Regions from separate parts of the Homo sapiens genome. Here region 2 is linked to region 1. The links come from fine-mapping of genetic effects on gene expression. A gene starts in region 1. The other region holds a variant in brackets. All regions are shown on one strand. Distances are between the middles of the regions. Region 1 holds the start of LINC02406 (long intergenic non-protein coding RNA 2406). Region 2 has its middle 80 kb from the start of LINC02406.

Region 1 (2,916 bases):
AAAATGTATATTTTATAAGTAATATTGGAAACAATAATTAACATTGTCACTAACATCTTATACCTCAACTAGTATAATTCGGTATTCAGTATTTTTCCCAAAATTATTACTTACAGTCATTGAAAATGTTAACTATCATGTTTAACTTGTAATTGCTTGTTGAAAGGAAAGAATATGAAAATGGTTAGAGTACATTGCAAATGTAGCTAGCAGTGTTTGTAATAAGGCTGAGATTCTGATGGATTTGCATAGAATTTGAATTACAAGTTACCTCCTTATAAAAGGTAAATTCTACATTTTATAAAGGCATATACATTTGATAGTAAATATTCTAAATTAATTGCAAATGTTAGCTTATTGAGTCCTCACTAACAAGAGCTATTATCTCATTTGACAGAGGATGTAATTGAGGTGCAGAAAGGTGAAGTGACTTGCCCAAGGTCACACATTTTGTAAGAGGTGAAGGTAGAACTGCAACCCAGGTTGCCCAGCCTGAAAGTCCGATCACTAACAGAAGTTTCCCACCCATCCCTAATCGACAAATTCGCAGTACAATAGAAAATCGTGGGTTTAGTTTAGTTTTTTTTTTTTCTTTTTTTCTTTTTTGAGACGGAGTTTCGCTCTTGTTGCCCAGGCTGGAGTGCAATGGCGCGATCTCGGCTCACCGCAACCTCCGCTTCCCGGGTTCAAGTGATTCTCCTGCCTCAGCCTTCCGAGTAGCTGGGATTACAGGCATGTGCCACCACGCCCAGCTAATTTTGTATTTTTAGTAGAGACGAATTTCTCCATGTTGGTCAGGCTGGTATCGAACTCCCGACCTCAGGTGATCCGCCCGCCTCGGCCTCCCAAAGTGCTGGGATTACAGGCCTGAGCCATTGCGCTCAGCCTCAGAAAATCGTGTTTTTAAAGCTCTTTCAGTTGTAATACATTACAGTTCTGTGAGGAGGAGAGCTCTGAGTGCTTACTCGGCATCAGGCAATTTGTGCTATATGCCCATATCTTCCAAATAACCTTATGAGATCAGTACTGTTATTATCCATGTTGTACATGTGAGGAAAATGAGGAACAGAGAATGGAAATAATTTTCTAAGCATCTCATAACCAACCGACGGTGGATTCAAGCCTATAAAATCGGATTGCAGTCTATATAGCTTGTCTCTTAAGCCTTGTGCGTCAGAACTATTATTATAAATCTTTTAATATGCAAAAGCAAAACAAACATGAAACTAAATGGAGGTATTATAGAATTGGGGAAATGGAGAGAGGTGGAAGAGGGCTTTCCGTGTGCAGTAGCAAGAGAAGTGGCAGCAGCTGGCAGTGAGTGGATTAAAATGTTACCACGGAACGCGCCTTTTTAACTCTGGCCTTGAAATCCTGTCAGCGCGCTTCCCAGAGCCTTGCACCAGGTTGGGTGGACCGGATGGACACCCTCGGTGTCGCCTGCTCTCCATCGCCCCTGGTGCCGGCGTCCGCCACTGTCGGGACTTTGGCGCCGGGACCGGCGGGGTTAAGGCGCCGGCGCTGGAGGCGGCGAGTTCGCGACCTTCCGGGGCGGCGGACCACCCCGCACACGCGTCCTCAGCGCCGGACCCTGAGCCGGCCGCGAACACGGATCCGACGTCAAGAACTGGGCACTTCCCGCTCCGTTTTGTCCGTGCCCCTCGGTGCTGGGTGAGGTCCTCCAGCACCAGGAGGCGGGAACGGGAGTGACTCGGGTGCTGAAGCGGGACGAATTGGGGGCGGTCGAATCCACCTGCTTCGCCGGCGCTGGCTCGGGGCACTCCGAGTGGGCGCGCGCTTTCGCGCCGGGGTCGTCTGAAGGTCGCGGACTCTGTCCCGCTCTGGAGTTTGTGGCGGGTTTGGGCGTGGGTGTGGGTAGGAGGTCCCTTCATGAAGCCCCGAAGAGCAAGAGGGACATAAGTTGGCGCCTTTCTCTTCCACTCTTGTTTTAAAAAAGAGAGTCGCGGCGTGCAAATGGGGGCAGGCGGGGAAACCACGCTCAAAACCGGGTTCTCTCCTGGGCTGTAGTGATAAGGGCCGCGGAACCCCACCCCCCTCCCCAGAATGTGCCCCAGGGCTCGGGGCCGGCTTCTGTGGCGGCCTCTCCGGGACCGGCTGGGCCGCCCAGGCCCGCCCCTCCCCAGTCCCGGCGCCCTGGGCCCTCTGTTTGCAGGCGTCGCGACTTGCAGCCAGGGCACGTGGGGCAGGTGCGGATTCTGTCGCTAGAGACCTAGTCGCCTCCCTCCTACTGCCTTTCCCGCGAGCGGGGCAGGTGGCGCAAGGTCCGCTCCCACTTGGACCCCCAGTTCGCGGCCAGGGGGCTGAGCCGGGGTAGCTCGGCGTTGAGTGGGGACCCGGTCGGCTGCCGCCGGGGTGAGCGGTCGGTCCTGGAACCTGCGAACGTTCGGGAGCACAACCCAGTCCCGGGAAACCGCTGCTTAACCTCCGTCTCCTGCGTTTTAGATCCTCTTTTGACTGTCCCACATCTGATACTCCTTACTGTATTGCACACTTCAGCATTTGTTGAGAGGGTAATCTCATATTAAGTGTTCTTACCACCATACAAGAAAATAGAAAGTCATGTTCACTGTTTCATCTCCAATTTTAGGGATCTATACCTGACATAATTTAAATATCCAAACTAAAACAGTATCTTGGTGACTATTCAGAGGGATGCACTGACTCGCTGAACGCTAGAATTTTTCTATGTTCCACAGTCTGTGGAAGATGCAACGATCCCTTTTCAGAAAACTAAATCTAAGAGGTATTAAACAGCCTATGTTATGACTAATTACACTGACAGCTTGCAATGATGGGGCGTGGGGGAAAGAAGACATTATAATGGACTGAGGTCCTTTGAGAACATGACAAAGAAGGGAGGGAGTTGAACACCTGGAAGTCCAGTTCGGGAAGGAT
Region 2 (2,916 bases), 80 kb after region 1:
AGTGGTTTTTAGTATGCAGAAACTAATAACTAATACATAAAATGTGTTACAATGGCACGTTAGAAATGCAATGCCATTGGTGACATAAATATAAATCATTTATCATTGGCTTTAAGACCCAGTAATGGGCAGAGGCTGTAAAAATAGTAAAAAGTTAGTAAAAGCTTGTGGGATGGTGAACAAATTGTTAATGGAAGCTGAAAATATGGCCACACGTGTTTTGTACAATTGCCTCCAATAATTTGGAAGGTAGAAAATGTACCTAATGAACTTGTGTATCTGACAAAGAAGATTTCTGGGCAGAATACTGAATATATTGACCTCTTTAAATTGTGTATAATGTTATAGGAGAAGAGAAATAAACTAAACAAAGAAAAGTACAGTTGAAAAAAAGAATTTAGAAAGAAGATAGAAGTTCTTGGACTGACTGAGTTGGAATATCAAACTGTTTCTCATCCTCAGTCTCTCCAGCCAGTAAAATATTCCCAAAGAAAGAAATGACTGTAGGTAAAGATCAATAAGTGTGTGGCTATGAAAGCCTTTGTTGAGACCACAGAATAATTTAGCTTGATGTCTGATAGGCCTTCTAAACCAGACAAAAGGGCTTTAAAAAATCTTAAAGATATTTTCTCACAGCATGCTGAACACAAGGAAGAGACCTCTGTCTCTGCTATTTCTGGGGCCTGTCCTATACTTTTCCTCCTTTCTACATTTATTCAAACTGTTTCCTCTTTCTTCCATTTATTGAATGCCTTTCTCTGCTGTCTCTGTACATCCAAATTCTTCCAATGCTTCATCTACCTTCTTCATGAAGGCTGCCTGAAAACCTCACATAGAAATAATCTCTCTTTCTTCTGAACTCCAGGAGCACCAAATATATACTTTTCTTTAAAGTCTTATTTATACATATTTATAACATGTATTTAAAAATTATAAAATAATATTTATATTTACAATATAAATATTTACTGTTATATTAAGAAAATTACATTTTCTATCTTGCATCATATTCATTCACTTCACTGTCTTATTTCTCCCTCCGTATTTTAACCTCCTTATGGCAAAACTAATGTCTGGCTCAATTTTGCATGTTTCACATCTTCAAGCACAATAAATATTCAATAAGTAAATACCAGTGAGTACTTGTCCATTGCTCTGTAAATACCTTTTTGGGATGCAAAGAAATAGCAAGACACAATTGGACTGAAATTATAGAAATATGGAGTTTCTTCACTCATACTGAAAAGAATGCAGAAAGTGTCTCAGAAAAGAGGATGTGAAATAATTCCATCAACTGTGCTGATGAGGACTCAGAATTGAACGTGGGTTATAGCAACATGCAGTTCTTTGTTCATCTTGATAAGAGCAGTTCCAGTAGGGTTTTGGGGAGGTTAAGGCCTGAGATGAGTATCTTCAAGAGAGAGCAGAGAGAGAAAGGGAAAAGACTGACAGTAAACGATTCTTTTGAAAAAGTTAATTTTAAGGAAGAGAGAAATGGAGTGAAATGAGGTCAAAAAAGGGAATGTAAGTTATTTTTTGAAGATGAGATAAAAATGTGTGTTGTATGATGATATGAAAGATGGTATAAGAAAAAGGGGAGA[A/G]AGGCTGGAGTCCAGTGAATTGCTGGAAGAGTTCGTCTCAGGAGCACAGGCAGTTCATCCACCATAACAGAAGAGAAGGTCAAGTTGGAGCACATGTGCACAGAAACAGTCGATTTGGCGGCTGAGCTAGGTTTATAATCAACTTCTTTCGAATGGCTTAGCAACACATGGAGGGATAATACATTAAGAATGAAGGGCTAAAAAAGGCCATCAGGTTCTATCCTCTTCAGTCTGTCTTTTTAGAGAAACAAGTCACAGAAACCTGAAGAAACTGGTCTTTATCATTTAATAGTAGAAATGAGACTAGAACTCAGATTTGCTCAGAAGGCATTTCCCCTGTATTGCATTGTCTAAGACGACTAAGAAAAATATTCCAGCTGCCTGCAGGTCTGGTTGTTAAGGCTGAGGTATGAGTGTTGCCTTGACATCCTCTCTGACTGAGTGCGAGCCTGTGGAGTCGTGTTTGCTCTGACATCCAATGCTCCTGTGTGTGCTGCAGATCAGGAATCTTGGTAAATACATCCTCTATCTCCTCACCCCGCTCCGGTTAAGCAGATTTGTAGGGCTTTCTCCGATGATTTGTGAATTATCATGTACCGAAAGTAGAGAGTGGAAGGACTCAGTTTTCTATTACTATGTATAAAAGCATTCTTATAATAGATATTTAACAAATTCTGTTGCACCTTGTGTTTTCTCCAAGTATATAGAAAAATTACATTTTCTCAATATTCACTTGATGGTTATTATTGGGAATAAGATGGAATAAAAGACATACTACCTGTTCTCAAAAGGGCTAAGTAGGACAACTAAGAGAATGAAGAGAAAAAAAAAAAGCCAAATGGAGGTGTGAGGAATGCAAAAGGAGATTTTAATTCTGACAAGAATTAGATAAGAGTTCAGGGAGGAGATAGTTGCACTGAGGGCTTATTTTGTTTAAAAGAACTACATAAGAAAGGCACAAAAGAAGAAAAAGATTCTAGATATTTTCTAGTTATAAAAAGAATAGTATGACAGGAAGTAAAAGGAGGAAATATAAAATGGTTTTATAATTCCTGTCAGTACATAGCTCATATAATAAATGTTGGAATGCATGTGTTAGAATTCCATCATCTATTCATACATACAAAATATATAGTTTGCCTAGACCAACCCTTTCCCCTCACATTCTAAAAAGATAATATTTATTTATATAAGCCACAGTATGTGTACCTCTGCTTAGTTGAAAAGAGAGGTTAAATATAAAGAATGGATAAATATGGGGAATTCCTTATAATAATAAATGGATATAGAGGGCTATCTTTTTTGAAACAATAAG

The links. PIP is the estimated chance that this variant, and not a neighbour inherited with it, causes the effect.
Region 2: its variant is fine-mapped to the expression of LINC02406 in caudate (GTEx, PIP 0.99).

What each region holds. Positions count from the first base shown.
Region 1 is chr12:39,144,123-39,147,038 of GRCh38, reverse strand. It overlaps LINC02406 (long intergenic non-protein coding RNA 2406), which reads left to right and starts at 1,569. Exons shown (of 3, transcript NR_183477.1): 1 at 1,569-1,671.
Region 2 is chr12:39,064,008-39,066,923 of GRCh38, reverse strand. No RefSeq gene overlaps it. Among named protein-coding and RNA genes, the nearest start is that of LINC02406, 80 kb to the left of the region's middle. The variant A/G (reference allele first, on the strand shown) is at 1,602.